Linked DNA regions of Homo sapiens: region 2 is linked to region 1. A link means that fine-mapping ties the variant in region 1 to the expression of a gene that starts in the linked region. Tissue or cell type: unexposed skin. Region 1 holds a variant in brackets; the other region holds the start of a gene. All regions are shown on one strand. Distances are between the middles of the regions.

Evidence for each region. PIP is the estimated chance that this variant, and not a neighbour inherited with it, causes the effect.
Region 2: NUP210 starts here. The variant in region 1 is fine-mapped to the expression of NUP210 in unexposed skin (GTEx, PIP 0.97).

Annotation. Positions count from the first base shown.
Region 1 is chr3:13,383,163-13,391,753 of GRCh38, forward strand. It overlaps NUP210 (nucleoporin 210), which reads right to left. Exons shown (of 40, transcript NM_024923.4): 4 at 8,049-8,145; 5 at 5,141-5,291; 6 at 3,113-3,245. Among named protein-coding and RNA genes, the nearest start is that of NUP210, 33 kb to the right of the region's middle. RefSeq lists enhancers at 5,372-5,872, 7,676-8,234. The variant A/G (reference allele first, on the strand shown) is at 4,308.
Region 2 is chr3:13,416,283-13,424,873 of GRCh38, forward strand. It overlaps NUP210 (nucleoporin 210), which reads right to left and starts at 4,040. Exons shown (of 40, transcript NM_024923.4): 1 at 3,778-4,040. The coding sequence starts at 3,944. RefSeq lists enhancers at 183-332, 393-462 and silencers at 3,255-3,824, 3,875-4,274.

The DNA of each region.
Region 1 (8,591 bases):
TTCATCTAAAAGACTTAGGAGTTTCCATTGGTGTGTCTTGTTCACAGTGAAGTTTTGCTAGCTCGGCCCCTCTCAGTTTTGCCAAAACATCCATCTGGAATCTACTGCAGTAGCATCCAGTGCCATCAATCGCACAGGAGTGTGTATTTTTGGAGTACTTTCACATCTCATGACATGATGAAAGGGAGGTGGGCCCTGCCTCTTTCCTTTCCTGTCCCAGGGCATCTTTCATGTGCTCCAATTCCTTGATGTCTGTGGCAGGAAGGTCAGTGACCAAGCTCGTAAGTTTTCTAGGTACCTTGGGAGGTGCAGTTCCTCTGGGCTGTGATACCTGAGCTAATTTAGAGTGAGCTCTTTTTTTTTTTTTTTTTTTTTTTTGAGACAGAGTCTCACTCTGTCGCCCAGGCTGGAGTGCAGTGGTGCGATCTCAGCTACTGCAACATCCTCTGCCTCCCGGGTTCAAGCAATTCTCCTGCCTCAGCCTCCTGAGTAGCTGGGACTACAGGTGTGTGCCACCATGCCCAGCTAATTTTTTTCTGTATTTTTAGTAGAGACAGGGTTTCACCATGTTAGCCAGGATGGTCTCGATTTCCTGACCTCATGATCCGCCCGCCTCGGCCTCCCAAAATGCTGGGATTACAGGTGTGAGCCACCGTGCCTGGCCGAGTGAGCTCTTTCTAAAGTCAGCCCATCCCCTCTTAACTACATGGGCTCTGCTTGCCCAGCTGGGGCAGTTTCATGCCCCATGAGTCCCATGCAAATGGACCACCTCACCGCTGCCCTGGGAGACTGTAAGGCCCTGTTTTTGTTTGTTTGTTTTGAGACAGTCTCGCTCTGTCACCCAGGCTGGAGTGCAATGGCGCAATCTCGGCTCACTGCAACCTCCACCTCCTGGGTTCAAGTGATTCTCCTGTCTCAGCCTCTTGAGTAGCTGGGATTACAGGCGTGCGCCACCACACCTGGCCAATTTTTGTATTTTTAGTAGAGGCGGGGTTTCACCATGTTGGTCAGGCTGGTCTCGAACCCCTGACCTCGTGATCCGCCCGCCTCAGCCTCCCAAAGTGCTGGGATTATGGGCGTGAGCCACCACGCCCGGCCGGCCCTGTTGTTATAATTAGCTTTTTTCTGGGTTTCCTTTGGGGAGAAGCGGCAGAGGGAAATTCCAATTGATCCTACAGGGGTGATTAAGGCCAAGGAGTCCAACAGTTTTGTGAGCTTCAGGTCTTCTATGCCTCAGTTTTCCTCATGTATGAAACAGGGTATTAATGAAATCTACCTCATAGAGCTGTTGGGTTATATCCAGGTACACAACTGTAGTCCCAGCTACTCAGAAGAAATGAGGCAGGAGGATGGCTTGAGGCCAGCAGTTTGAGATCAGACTGGTCAACATAGCAAGACCAAGTCTCTAAAAAATAAAATAAAGTAACTTTAAAAAGAAAAGCACTTACAACTGCCCAACACTGAGGAAATGTTCAGTCATGGTTAGGTGCTGTCAGCAGTGACTAGGCTCTCCAAGCGTCTTCCTTCAGGCCGCAGTGCCATTTCTTGATCAGTGTTCATGGATAATTTTATATTTCTGAGACCTCCTGTTTGTGCCCTCTGGCCTTTCAACACGCTTCCCCTTTGCATTCTTCCTTAGGCTGCTGTCCTCAGAACTCTATCTTGGAGCCTCCTCCCCTTTCAGAGTCTCAGAAAGCCACATCTTGGACTGTCCCTGTCCTAGAATCTGCCTCCCTGAAGTCAGGTAAACATCGGGCTCTGACCAGGACACCCACGCTTGGCTTCCTACAAATCCTACTGCAGGCCATCCTCCTGTTGACTTGACATCCTGCTGAAGGGCAGATGCTGCTTGCCCAGAATCAAGAAACATGAGTTTGCTTCTCTTCAACTAGGACCCCCTTGCCAGAAAGAACTGGGCCCAAAGGCAGGAGCGCCTGTCTTCAGTTTTTTTGTCCTCCTGAGAGAAAGCGTTCTGCCACACAGGAATGACCAACCAGGTGACTGCTCTCAGTTGAGCAGGACTTTAAACAATGCAGCACCTCCCATCAACTGGAGACACCACTCAAGTTGCTCTTATGCTGAAGTGTGTATCTGCCTGCCTCTTAAGTGACACCCTGTATCACAGGTGGAACCAACCTACCAACCTGGCAAACTCACCTGACTGAGGCCCTCGGATGGACTGGACCTGAGAGCTCTTATGCCCATGACCCTTCAGGTCCTATGCTCTGGATGTTAAACATACACAGCTTTGAACAAAATGATAATGATCCTTAGGAGGACTGGCGCTCCATTGAGAACCGTCACTATCTAAACACAAGTACACAGTACAACTACACTCCTATTGATTCATTTTGTCCTCACAGCCCAGGCAGAAAGGCCTCAAAGCCTCCAATGAGAAACAGCCCTGGAGAAGGGCAGTGGCTTGTCCAAGTTTGTTCAGTTGTCAGTTGCAGACCGGGGCAAAGCCCAGCTAAACACAAAGCCCACAGCTCTGGACTTGCTGCCACTGAAAGGGCATATACCCCAAAGAATTTGAAAGCAGGGACTCAGATATTTGCTCACTATGTTCACAGCAGCATTACTCACAATGGCCAAAAAGTGGAAGCAACCCAAGTGTCTGCTGATGGATGAATGGGTAGATGAATGGGTAAACAGAATGTGGTCTATCCATCCACACAATGGAGCACTATTCAGCCTTAAAAGGGAAGGGAATTCCAACCCTTGCTACAACATGGATGAAACTTGAAGACATCAGGCTAGGAAAAAAGTGATATAAGCCAGTTACAAAAAAATAAATACTATATGATTCCACGTACATGAGGTAACCAGAGTAGTCACATTCACAGAGACAGGAAATAGAGTGATGAGTGCCAAGGGCTGGGAGAGGGTGAAGGGGAGTTAGTGTTTAACAATGCAGAGCTTCAGTTTGGGAAGATGAACGAGTTCTGTGGATGGATGATGGTGATGGCTGCAGAAGAGTGTGAATGTACTTGATGCTACCTGATGGAGCACTTAAAAATGGTTAAGATGGTAAATTTTGTTACATGTATGTAACCACAATAAAAAAAGGAGGAAGGAAGCATCTGTCATGATGGCAGAGCCAATGACACACCTGTAATTTTCCCTTGCCTGATCTTCTGCACCTTGTAGTGAATGGAGGTTCCCACCATCAGGTAGACGTCATAGGCCGGGTTCAGAAGGATGTTTTCCAAAATCAGCAGCCTGACTTCTGCAGGGCGTACATTCTTGGCATAAAGAAAAGGCAGACAAAGTGAGGTGCGGACAGGGAATGGGGAAGTGGTGGTGTGAGCAAGAGAAAGAGATGTTTTAAACATGGGAATAGGGAAGTTAAGAGGAAAGAAACAAGATATCATTCCCAAATCCTCACTTTCAGAACCCAGAGGTCCCAGGGGAGCTCCATAAGTATAGCAGGCACCCAGAAAAAGGGCATTACCCAGACTGAGCCCTCACACTGACTGCCCATTGTGCATGGTTTATCTCTATGTGAAACCATGATTAAACTGGAGTAAAAGAGGAGAGCCAGGGTGAACTCTAGGGATGCTATGGCCACCGGGAGCTCAAGTTCTCTCCACACAAAAGCCCAAGGTCCAGGGAACTTGAGAAGCCCCAGGCCAACATAAAAAGCAGGAGAGGCATATGCTGTGATGAGCCTTGGCTGCTATTCCTTGACCCCTTCCCCTGCCCGCCTTTCACCCCCGACCTGTGACCTCCTGCCTCCTCAGGAAAACCCGTGGGCAACTTCGCAATGGGAGAAAGATCACTAGGTGCCCTGTCTAGTGCACCCTTAGGTACTGGATTCTCCAGAGGCCTGCACCTTTCATTGTCTTTGGCCTGTTTGATGGCAGTGTACATTGTAGAAAAGCGACAACACAGCAAATGATTCTTGTCCACAGAAACACAAAAACATTTCCTCAGGTGAAGGCGCAGCTGACTGCCCTCCTGTGGGTGTGGGCATTCTACATTTTTCTGAGTTCAGTTCAGCATGCCTGGTGTCCTGTGGCAACTCTTTGGATTCTCCTTTAAGCCTGCTGTCACAACTGACAGCTTTCCTCACTTAACAACTAGTTAATATCTTCAGTGTGTCCAAAACAGACAAGTGTATTGGGCACCACCATGGGCAGGGCTCTGTGGCGGCTGCTTTCCAGCACGCAGGCAGGGAGGGCCACTGAATGTCTATGGGCAGGACAGCAAGTCTGCCTTTCCAGCTTAGCAGTGTGGCTGTACCCCATCCCAGCCTGGGCCCTACACAGGAGCAAACTGTCTCTAAGTACTACCTGCAGAGTCCT[A/G]CGGGATTAGCCCCTATAACAGGGCATGTCCCCATGTTTCCATAACTTTCCAGGACTCCCAGATGCAGCAAACCCACTACAGAGAGTGAATCAGAAGAGGATTTCTCCGTCTGCCACTTTACAAAATTAAATGGCAGGCCAAGTACCACAGTGTTCCTGCCTGTGCTCCAGACACTAGGCAAACAAAAATATCTCAGGGTTGCAGCTCAAAACGAGGCACTGGTTGGGTGGACATTAGTCCACAGGGACAGAGAAGGAACCAGGACGTTGGATAGACCCACTCCTCACTCTCCTTTCCTCTGGCATACCCCCACTACCCTAAGAATGGGATGCTGGTGAGGCCAGGAAGACATGGGATCGGCTGGGGCAGGGGGTTGAGGTGATCTACACATAGGATCCCTGGGCCACCAGTCTCAGGGCTCCAATGGGGGCCCAAGGAGAGACAGCATAGAAGACACCCAGGAGCCCCAGGTTTTGTCAAAGCCCCAAGTGCTTGGGAGTGTCCCTATACCAGCACGGTGGGGGCACCAGTTGGAAACAGGTGAGTTACTGGAAACCTCCTGCTCTTGGACCTCCCTAGAAACTAAGAATGAGCAAATGCTATGCACCCCTAGAGATGCTTTCTGGGGCCTCAACCACCTTTCTTTGTAAGCTGAGGCTCAAACAAACCAAACCAAACACATAAAAATATGAACCCACATCCTGAAATCACGGGACAGCATCTCACTTCCACTATTCAACGTGCCTATAGGTGTGATGGTACCTATAAGCAGGTACCGTCAGCCTGATTCCACCCCAGGAAGCCCACTGACACCCCAGCGCCCCAGGCCCACCTTGTAGACAGCCTCCTGGATGCGAGCCTTGAGCTTGGAGCTCCCGGTCTTCATCCCAGACACCAGGATGGTGTCCCCTTGCTTGGCAGCCTTCTCCATCTCTGAGATGTAAGAAGGAGGGATGTACGTAGACTCCAAGAAAGTGAGGATTCTGGAAAAGGAGCACGTTGTCAAAGTTTGTTGATCAAACCCCAACACAAGATTTGTCAGAATCTACCACAGCATTCCCTATCAGTACCTCCCACTGGGGCTGATGCTGAAATAAGGGGTGTCCCCCTAGTCAGGGCTGGGGCTGCCTAGAGACACGGCCCTGCAGCTTCCTACATCAGAACTGCCAAAGTCCTTGTGAAAAATGCAGATACTTGGCCCCTGGCCCAGGCTTTGTCTCCAAGATGCCTGGGAATCTGCATTTTATCCACACGCACACGTGACGTAAATACTAACATGCGAGACCAGCTGCTGAGTCCACATGGGAACAGTGAGGCCCGGGAGATGAGGCAGCAGGCCCAAGAGCACAGCCCAGTCACAGCAGGGCCAGCAGCACCCTCACCTCCCCGAGGCTGCCTGCTCCTGTCCAACCTCCCCGGCCTAGCGCCCAGCTCTGGGGAACGATTCTCCATGACTGGTCCCCTAGCCCTGGGCACCAGACGGCACCATGTCTCACTCTCCCTGGATCCCAGCTTGGGGAGATGTCGGGGACGTGGTGTAGCCTGGAGTGTGGGCTGCTGGGCAGGCGGACTTCAGGGATCCTTCCCACGCAGCCTCCCACTTCAGCCTGCATTTACAAACGAGCCCACTGTTCCCCTGCACAAGAGCAATCTGCCAATGCTGGGCCGCACTGTGATTTATTTCCTCGCCTGGTTACTCTAGGTGTCACACGCCAAATTACAAATCCAGGACAATCCAGCTCCAACCCGCCTTGGCATCTGGGATTTCTGTTAGCATTTGGCTCAGGTGCAGAGCTAGCTGCCTGGAAGCTCAAGGGGTGGGGAATGGGGTATTGTCAGAAGGGGACAGGGATTCAGCATCCCCTCAACATCCAGCGTGTGCCAGGCCCAGAGAGGGGCCCTGAGTGGATCAACCCACTGAGCTGTACAGTGGCCCTCAGAGGCAGGCACGGGATTCCCTCCAGCTCTGTTTCCCAGGGCAGGAGGCTGAGGCTCAGGTGGGTAACGTTCCCTGGCTAAGGACACAGGCAGGAAGCGACAAAGCCAGGACTGGAATCCAGGTCTCTGACTCTCTGGCCCATGGTCATTGTTTTACAAAACACCAGAACCCACAGAGCTGGTCCAGCAGGCTGTCTCCACAAGGGCAACTCGGCTCACAAAGGCGTCAGGACATGAGGACGTCGGCCTGGAGTTGCTGTAAGCTGAGCCCTGGAGAAGGCTGTGACAGAGGAACCACCACATCCCCAACATCCCCTACAGCCCAGAGCAGGACTTTAATGGCATAATGAAAGACCAGACAGTAAACTCCCTGACAAAGGACTTATAATTATATAGGGGTGAGAAAGCGCAGAGGCAAGTGGAAGAGCGGAGTCTCACTTCTGTGATGTTCCTGCCAAAGACACAACGTTCGGACCCTGGCCGTGAGGGAACAGCAGACAAACCCAAAACAAGGGCCACTCTACAGATAACTAGACTGTCCTCTTCACAAGCGTTGTGGTGTCCAAAGTCAAAGCCCGGGAGACAGTCCCAGGCTGACAGAGACTAAGAGAAACAGGACACATGCGGCAGGTGACTTGGGGCTGGGATCCTTCTTTTTACTGAAAAGGATAAAGCTGGGACAAATGACCAAACTCGAGTAAGGTCTGAAGACGGCCGGCAACAGTGTTCGTTTCCTAGTGCCATGACTGCATGGTGGCCGTGCAGGACAATGCCCCGATGGTCGTAAAGCACATGAAAATCATCAGGGTGACGGGACATGAGGCTGGCAGCCGGCTCTCAGGTGAATGAGGGAGACCACTTTTTGGACTAAACTGGCAGATTTTCTACAGGCCTAAAATTGCTGCAAAAGGAGACTCAAAAGATTCAAAAACAACTTTAAAAAAGGGACCATGCTTTTTAAAAATCACATGGCAAATCAGGAGGAAGGCGGCACAGTCGGGAATACAAGCTCAGACCTGGGACCTGCACCAGCACCGGCAGAGGACCCGCGTGGCTCTGCTCCTGCCCTGTCCCACATGTGGCAGTGCAGTGAGCCATTGACAGGAGGCTTATGCATCTTAGGAACTGAACTGCTCATTTTCTAACTACAAGTAAATAGCTCTGGGGCCCGTGGCTCCCACGAGACAGTGCAGATCCACGGATCTGAGTTCAGACTCCAGCTCTGTCCTCCCGGAGCTCAGACAAGCGGCTCGGCCTCTCCAAGTCTCAGCCTCCACAACTACTCGATGGAGAGCACAGTGGTGCGCAAGCTCATGTGGCTGCCAGGAGGATGACACAGGTCAAGATGCTTAAGGTGTCCGCCTCACAACTGGTCTTACTATACCGCCATATGGGCGACTCAGCCTGTTCCACCTGAGACCCACCGGCACAGCTGGCCTGTGCCCCAGCCGAAACCTGGCTGCCCTTTAACTGGCCCCCCAGAAGTGCAGCCTGGGGCCACCCACACTTTCCCTGTGCCCTGAGACAGCCATGCATGTCTCATTTCTCCAGCTGGACATCCCAAGCCTCTGACAGCTTCTCACAGGACACTCTCTGGGGGCTGCAGAAGCAGCCAGGCTCCCGCACAATGGTGTGAGTGGATCCCATTCCTCAATCAGACACTCGGAATGTTACGGGCATCCTAGGAGTCTCCCAGACTCCTCAATGACCCAGATGAAAGCCCCCCGCTGGTGAGGAGCTCACAGGTGTCCCCCTTTCCCCTTCCCTTCAAAGGGGCCAGGCCTAGCAGAGGCACCCCTTACCGCAGCGCATTGTGGGAGTCTGAGAACCTGTCCGCCTCGGAGTCCTTCACAATCGTCCACTCGAAGACCAGTCCAGCCAGAGTGCTGAAGGTGTTCCCTATAAGAGCAGATGGGAGAGGCAGACAGATATGGAGTTAATTTCCCAGGGTGGAGGGAGGCGTGATGGGAGCTTCTGCCCCATGCAGGAACCACACTCCACATCACCACCCACCAGGCAGGTGTCATAAACTGTATGTCAGGAGAGGAAACTGAGGCTGAAAGGAATGAAGACACTTACTCATGGTCATGTGACCACCAGGGGGCGAGGCCAGAATTTGAACCTAGGGCTGTCCGATGAAAGCTTGTGCTCTTCCTGCTGTGACTCCCTGCCCTTGACTGCAGGACCAGCTCAGTGCAGTGCATAACACTGCTGCCCCGCACGTCTGTGAGCGGTTTACAATTTAGGAGTCTGCTCGGAAACCTGGGCCATTCATTCCTGCTCACCACTTCCTGGGAGTAAACTCCTCTCCCTCCCTGTGCAGGGGAGGGGACCCAGGGTGGAGG
Region 2 (8,591 bases), 33 kb after region 1:
CACTGTGCATGCTGTGTCTGGATGTTGTTCACCAGGCAGGTCCACATCCCCTCCCCACCTCAGCCAGGGGAGCTGCAGGTCGTAATTCAAAACAGAGTGTCTCCGCCAGAGGCCCGGGAGGTCGCACAACATCCCCTTCCCCAGGGGAACCAATGGCTGCCTGACAGTGGGTACAAAAGCTCAAAGCTTGGTCTCTTCGCCTGAAGGCAGGACAACCTGCAGGCAGCCTCCCTTCCCTATCCAGCTGCCCAACAGAGCACTTTCTCTGTAAACTAGGGCAGCAGAATCCTGCCTCAGGCTCCACCCCTGGGAAACCAATCTGAGCCACTCACTTTCTCCAAGACAGCGCCCCCTTGCTGGAGCACCCAGAATACCCTGGGACTCCATGACAGGGAAAGAATCAATGAGGAGGCAACTTCAACCCAGCAGAAAGGTGCTCAGACACGGAGCCCTCAGGAAGAAGCAACAGAGCAGTGCTTGGGCTTCAGTGCTAGCCAGTGTTGGCAGGGGAGGAGGTTCCCGAGGTGCCCAAATAACCAGGTTCAAGGCAATGTAAGAAAGGAGCTAGGAGAGGAAACATAAGTGACCGAAAAGAAACCAAAATGCTGCCTGTGATTGTATTACAGCTGGAAGATTATGGCATGATTTCTTTTTCGTCTGTTCTCCCAGTTTTTGATATGAGGTCGTTTTGTATATACCTTTAAAAGGAGCAAATGTAATATACTTTATGGAACACTTTCAATAATGCAAAATATCTAGAAGGAATCAGGAACTTGTCACAAAACCAGTGCTGGCTGGGTGCAGTTGGAGAGAATTAGAGCCTGGCAAATTAGCCAGAGGCTGCCAGTCCCCAGGTCTAATGGCGTGGGACAGGGAGGGGTCCCAGCAGCTCCTGCTCCAACTCAGTGTCCATCGCTACAAGACTTCCCAGAGATCACTTCCCCTTCTGGAGCTCAGGTTTTCCTATATGAAACACAGGCTGTTTAAACTAGGTGACCTCTAAGGTTCCCCTGGCCCGAAAACTGTCCAATTTTGATGTTATAAAATAAAAAAAATAGGAAAAGTAAACATGAAGCTGTTGGCTCAGGCACACACAGTGATTTCTGTAAACTTAGAGCTCAGCTGCAAATTCAATGGATGTGCAAATGTTCCCACAGGGTCTGGCAGAATTCTCATTTTCTTTTTCGTCTGAGAGACTTAACAATGAACTTTCTGGATGAAGAGGTAATGTTCCTCCCAGGTTTAGAGGACTGTGGATATATGTCTATAGGCCAGCTCTTAAAATCTCCAGAGCAGATTCTTCAAAACTGCAGCAATAGACGACTACACTAGGAACAGCAATACTAAAAATAAAGAAAATATTCTCAATGCTTGATTGACAGAATGTCTTCCTGTCAAGTTAAGGGGGAATCACAATTTCCAAACACCTCTGAGAAGACACTTTGAATAGCAGTCACACATCTGCAGTCACACATCTGCAATACAAACTACAGATCAACGCCAAACACGTTATAAGGTACTTAGCACTTCTCTGATGCATCAGAGATTAAGAATGTTTTTTCCCTTTTTCCTACCAAGTAAATTAAAATCCACCAACACCCTTCAGCTCCTCTCAGAAAAGAAAATGATGTTGGGGGGGAAAAAAGTGTTGTTAGTTTAGAAAAAGAAAAAAGTACAGCTATAGAATCTCAGAGAAAGTAACACACAAATATATCCAAAGGGATTCACTTGAAGCCAGCTGTTTTTAATAACCAGTTTCCTCTTTCTTGCCCACATACTGAGAGGACAGACAGCTTCAACAAGAGAATGAGCATGTATCCCCGCCACAGTATTGACTAACAGCTGATTTTCCCACACAAGACTAGGCCTTAGACTGGGATACAGAAAACCTAATGCCCAAGTTCAGCCTCTGGCATCAGGCCAGAAATAGGAGCCTCCAGGTGCATAAAGCACTAAAACCAAAATGCAATGGGCTGACCTAGTACGTCTTGATTTCAGGAAGGAGACCTTCAAAAAAGAAATAGGGCAGGCCGGGTGCAGTGGCTCACGCCTGTAATCCCAGCACTTTGGGAGGCAGAGGCGGCGGGATCACTTGAGGTCAGGAGTTCGAGACCAGCCTGACCAACATAGTGAAACCCCATCTTTACTAAAAATACAAAAATTGGCCAGACAAGCCAGGCATGGTGGCTCACGCCTGTAATCTCAGCATTTTGGGAAGCTGAGGCAGGTGGATCGCTTGAGGAGTTCTCCTTGGTCTTGAGGAGTTCAAGACCAGCCTGGCCAACACAGTGAATCCAGAGTTTGAGACCAGCCTGGCCAACATAGTGAAACCCCGTCTCTACTAAAATGCAAAAAACTAGCTGGGTGTTGTGGCGGGCGCCTGTAATCCCAGCTACTCGGGAGGCTGAGGCAGGAGAATCGCTTGAACCGGGGAGGCGGAAGTTGCAGTGGACAGAGATCGCGCCATTGCACTCCAGCCTGGGCAACAAGGGCTGGAGTGCACTCTAAAAACAAACAAACAAACAAACAAAATTAGCCAGGTGGCCTGCACCTGTAATCCCAGCTACGAGGCGGGAGAATCGCTTGAACCCGGGAGGTGGAGGTTGCAGTGAGCCGAAATCGCACCACTGCACGTCAGCATGGACGACAAAGCAAAACTCCGTCTCAAAAAAAAAAAAAAAAAAAAAAAAAGAAAGAAAGAAATAGGGCAAATAGTGCAAGCAACAGAGAAAGCTGGCTGGTCTGAGCTTCGGGCATCACACTTACATACACGCACAGACTAATACTCAAACAGGCTTGACACACACATGTCCAGGCTTACACACATGGCTGTCACGTGGTCACACCCCGTTCTGCCTCAACCTTGACCCAGTCTTGAAACAGAAATAAAGGGAGCAACTACTGAGCATCCTGGGGGTGGGAAGGGCGGAAGCCCATCTTTTCACCCCTAGGACGGCTGGGCTGGGAAGCTAAGGGCGCTCAGTCGTGCCCACGCAGCCTTGCCAGGGGCAGGAGCTCCATTTCCCCTGGTCTGCAAAATGGAAGGGCTGGACTGCACCGCCCTGTCAGTGTCGGTCTCTGGTTTCATGGGTCCCTGTGGTTCCACAGGGTCACACTCCGCATCCGACCCCTTGGAGAACTCCCAACCCGAGAGGGAGGGTGATGGAAATGCCCTGAGCATCAGGACCCGCGCCGAGGCAGCCTGAGGGGAAGCGCCGGCCTGCCTCGTCTCACTTCGCCTCTGTAAAGCGGCCCCTGGGCTTCCCTCCAAAACTCCTTTCCTCCAGGGTCTCCGTTCCTCCCCGCGACGCTAGGCGCTGCGCTTCGTTTCACAGACTCACTTCCCACGCCAGGGCGAGGGCGGTCACAGACAAACCCGAGCTGGGGTCCCAGACTCAAGGGAAGTGCGGCCCAGCTGCCCCGGCGCCCCCTCCCGGGTCAGGCCGGCTCGGGCCCGGCCGGCTTGGGCCCTGCGGTCCCAGACGCCGCTCCCCAGGCCACCCCTCCTCCCGCACAACCCAGAACACGCGGGTCACGGCCGCCAGGCTGCGCCCGCTCTGCTCGCGCCTCAGCGGCGCGGAGGCCCGGACGGCGCCATGACATGAGCAGTGGTGGCGACCCACGCGCACCCGCCGCTCCGAGTGCTGCAGCCTAGCGCCCAGCGAGAGCGCGCCGCGCACCTGCCGGCTCTGCCGGCCTCCCGGCGCCCGCCCAGCCTCTCAGCGCGAAGGCCCAGCCCGGCCCACGGCGCCCGCCCGGCCCGGCCGCGCGCCTCACCAGCGGTAGCAGCCCTCCGAGGCCTCCAGCGTGAAGTTAACGCGCGTGGCCCGCGTGAAGGGCAGCAGCACTTTGGGGATGTTGAGCTTGGCCGCAGCGGCGGAGGGGCCCGCCGCCAACAGCACCGACAGCGTCAGCAGCAGCAGCCCCCGGCCCCGCGCCGCCATCCTCGCCGCGCGTCACCTCCCGCGACCCTGCGCCCGGCCGCCCGCGCCGCCCCGTTGCCCTCCGCTCCCGCCCGCGCGCGCGCCAGGCCAGCAGGTGATGAGCGCGGGGGCGGGGCGAGGGCCGTCGGCGGCCGCCGCTTCCTGGGCCTGAGCGCGGGAACTCTGGGGGCCGAGCTCGCGGCGACCCCACCCCCAGCCCGGCCCTCGCGCAGGGACGCGGGGCTGGGGGATGGGCGCGCGCCCGGGCCCCCGGAGCTGAGGGAGAAGGCTTGGGGCGCGCCCGCGGGGACCCCTGGACCCTAGAAGTCCCAAGGGGGAGCCCCCGGGGCGCCCCGCAGCACGCATCCCGCCCTGGTATTTGCCCCTGGCGGTGGAGCCAAGCCGCCGGCTTTGGACCTTGCGCTCTGGCCCGGACCCACGGTCAGCAAGGAAGGGACACATGCCCCAGGACATTTGGGATGCAGAAAACCGGCGCCTGCCTTGTCCCAGCCCATGCTTCCCAGAAGAGGGACCCCGGGCTCGCAAAGGGAAGCCACCTGCTGAAGCGCTGAAGGCCCGGGGCCCGCTCCCCCTCGACCCCCTCACACCCTTTCCAGAGAGGCCTTAAGATTCCCATTTCTCCAGGAAAAAACCGGTTGAATGGCCCCCAGATCACTCAGCCAGAGAGCCCCAAGCTCTTGTCCTCCGCACTGCACCCCCTGCGGAAGCCATTAGAGGTTACCTATAGGTCATTTAGGGCGCCAACGCTGCCAGAGCACAACCCCCTCCACGGCCCCCACACCCACAAAAGAAAGTTTAGCACCGCGGAATCCACCTGCACACCAATGGAAGGCCTTAGATTCCGCGCTGTGCTCTGTGGCTTTTAGCTGTCTGTCGTGAATTGCATGAAGGCATGCGTCAGCAGGCACCTGACTGCTTGGTGCCGCTAAAATATGAATCTAGCCTTGCAGAGAAGGCCCAGCCTAGCGGGAGGTCAGGAAAGGGTGGGGTGAGGGTGCACTGGCCGGCTGTCTGAGGAGTGCAGGAAGTGGATGCTGACTGTAACCAGGAAGACACACAACGATGCCACTGGGTGACCAGGAAGGAGAGGATAAATGTCAGTAAGGCTAGGAAGGCTTTTTGGAGGCGGCGGCCCCTGGGTTGGGCATAGACACCGCACTGGGCTTCAGCGAGGCCCGCATAGGCTGAGCCTGCCCCTCAGGGATCATGGGGCTTTTGGATGGTGATGCGGGGTGTTTGGGGTCACCCTCGAAGCCTGAGGGCCCTAGACCAGGGAATGTGTGTGTTGGGGGAAATCTCTGGAGATAACCAGAACTAAGGGGGTGAGGGTCGGCCCTGTGTGGAACCAGGTGCTCTGGGAGGGGAATTCCAACGGGCTCCCTTTGAAGAAACAAAAAACAGACTTGCGCGGAAAAGGCAGCCTCAGAGGGTATTTGTGAGGAAGTCTGTGGGTGTCTTCTGGGTTGCACAAGATTGATTTGTTTTCCAACAGGTAATCCAGACAGATGGTTGAAACTTAGGCTCAAAAGGGTTCCAAGTGAAAGTGATTCCTCTCCCTCCCCATCACCCAATACCCTTCCCTACAGGCAATGAGTGTTTCCCACTTGAGTATACATCCAGAGAAATTTTATGCATAAACAAGCATATATATATATAAAACATGGCACACATGCACACACATACACATACATGCACACACATATGTATATATGAAATATGGCACATATACATACATATACATATGTCTTGCGAGGCAGGTAAATCTCACTCTTGGACATATATCCTAGAGAAATGAAAAGTGATGTTCCCACAATCACCTGTACATAAAACATTCATAGCAGCTTTATCAAATAGGCCCAAACTGGAAACAGCACAGAGGTCCTTCATGGGTGATGATTAAATACTGTGGCACATCTATGCCATGGAATATTATTCAGCAAAAAAAGAAATGAACTGCTAATACATCCATCTTGGATGAAGCTCCAGGGAATTATACGGACTGGAAAACAAACACTACAAAAGCACAAAAGGTTACATACTGTAAACTTGCTTTTATACAAGATTATTGAGTTGGCAAAATTATAGAAGTATAGAGCAGGTGAGTGATTGTGGGGTCAGGGGCGGCGTGGCATAGGAAGTGATGTGGCTATAAAAGGTCAACATGAGGAGTCCCTGGGATGGAAGTGCTTGGTGGCTTGACTGTATCAATGTCCATTTCCTGGTTGTGATATTATCCCATAGTTTTGCAAGATGTCTACTAGTGGAAACGGGGTAAAGGGCACATATTATAGCATCTCTCTTGTTATTTGTTACAACTGCATGTAATCTACAATTATCTCAAAAAAAGAATCATACAAACAGGCCCAGCAAAACACATCTGAGTGGACACAGCTTGCTAAACAACTACGTTTCAGGTGATTTAAGGCAATCAGGAAATTTTCCCAGCAGAAAACAATCCATGGAAGACAACAAAATGGGCCGGGTGCGGTGGCTGTCACCTGTAATCCCAGCACTTTGGGAGGCCAAGGTGGGCAGATCACCTGAGGTCAGGAGTTTGAGACCAGCCTGGCCAACATGGCAAAACCCTATCTCTACTAAAAATACAAAAAGTCGCCAGACATGGTGGCATGCATCTGTAATCCCAGCTACTGGGGAGGCTGAGGCAGGAGAATCACTTGAACCTGGGAGGTGGAGGTTGCAGTGAGCTGGGATCAAGCCACTGCACTACAGCATGTGCAACAAGAAACTCCATCTCAAAAAAAAAAAGGCAACAAAATGATGGGTAAAACATTTTCCATCTGAGATTTTATCCCTTTACGTTGTCCTTAAACTTGCCCCCAGACCCCATTTCACTTGCCTACAAACCTGGTATGAGATGGTATTTGGGGCCAAGCCAGGGGTCCATGTGTAGGGGCCACCCCCACCTTCTCTGTGGGCTGTTTCCACTCCCTGGCATTGGGCCCCTTCTTTGGGTGTCAGTGTTTATCTGAGATGCAGGGAGCCAGCCATGGACAATGGCCTGAGCACAGCCTTCTGTCCTGGCACAGAGACCCTCTGGGCTGGAAGAGACCACAGATTTGAGTGAGCCGGTTACCCACCTGATAACTAAAACCAGATAGGAAAATGTCTCCTGACCCACATCAGGGTCTCCCAAACTTCTGTTACTTTCTACCACCCTAAAACATTTTAAAAAATAATATCTATCTGAGTGCCACTTGTGCTGTTATTTCCTGTCTTTAAATCAAAGTGTTTACATATATTTACTTAAGAAGCAAACTTTGTCTCTTCTGTTAATAAAAAGCCATTATCAGTTTGCAAAATATAATAGAAGTAGCCATAAAATAAATACAGCGAAACAAAAGAATGCCTTCAAATTACCGCAGGATACTATTTCTTGCTAAAGGCTGAGAGCCCAAGGCCTGCTCTCAGGGCCTTCAGTGGGAAGATAACCAAACACAAGACAGTGTGAAGGACAAACCACACTAATCTTGACCTTTCTCCTTGGGCATACAAGTATGGAGAGATTTTTCAAGGCAATTAACTTTTTCCTAGGGGGACGTTGTCCTTTTAGAGCCTACCCACCATCTTTTTGTGACAACAGTAATTTTTATTTGTATTTCATTTATTTATTTATTTTTGAGACAGGGTCTCTCACTCTGTCACCCAGGCTGGAGTGCAGTGGTGCAATCTCAGCTCACCACAGCCTCTACCTCCTGGGCTCCAGCCATCCTCCCATCTCAACCTCCTGAGTAACTGGGATTATAGGTGTGTGCCACCACATCCAGCTAATTTTTGCTTTTTGTTTTGTTTTGTTTTGTTTGTAGAGACAGGGTTTCGCCATGTTGCCCTGGCTGGTCTCGAACTCCTGGACTCAAAGGATCTGTGCCCCTTGGCCTCCCAAAGTGCTGGGATTACAGCCATGAGCCACTGTGCCCAGCCCAAACAGTAATTTTAAAGAATCATTCTGCAGTGGGGAAACTTAAAGAGTCATAGAGTAGACAGTGGTATAATGAAGCCCCATGACTGTCCAGTTCTGTGGCCACAATCCACAGCCAATTCTGCTGCTTCTGCAGTCACCACAGGCCCCACCCTATCTCATTTTGAAACAAATCCAAGATATCCTGTCATTTCGTCTGTATTTCAGTTTGTATCGCTAAGAGATAAGGACCCTTTTATAGACATAACCACAATACTATTATCACACATAAAAAAGTTAACAGTAATCTTATGGTCATAAAATATTATTAGAGTTCAAATTTCCAACTGTCTCATACATTCATAATACCTTTTTACAGTTTATACTTTCAGAATCAGGATATAAGTAAAGTTCACACATTGCAATTGATTGAAATGTCTTTTAAGGCTCTTTCAATCTATAGGCTTCCTTCCCCATTTCTCCTTTTCTCCCTGAATTTAAATGTTGCCCTTTGACCTCTGGAGTAGACATTTGTGTTTTCAGACACCCCCAAGCTGAGTCCCCACTAGCCTGGGCCCTACTGCAGCAGCAATGGGGGTTTCCGCCTCTCACAAGTCTGCCCCCAGGCTTTGGTCATGGACTCTGGAAATGGAGGAAAGGGACACCCACTGTGGACCTTCAGCACCACCTCTGAGCTGGAAACCTTGGCTTTGGGCAAAACAAAAAAGAAG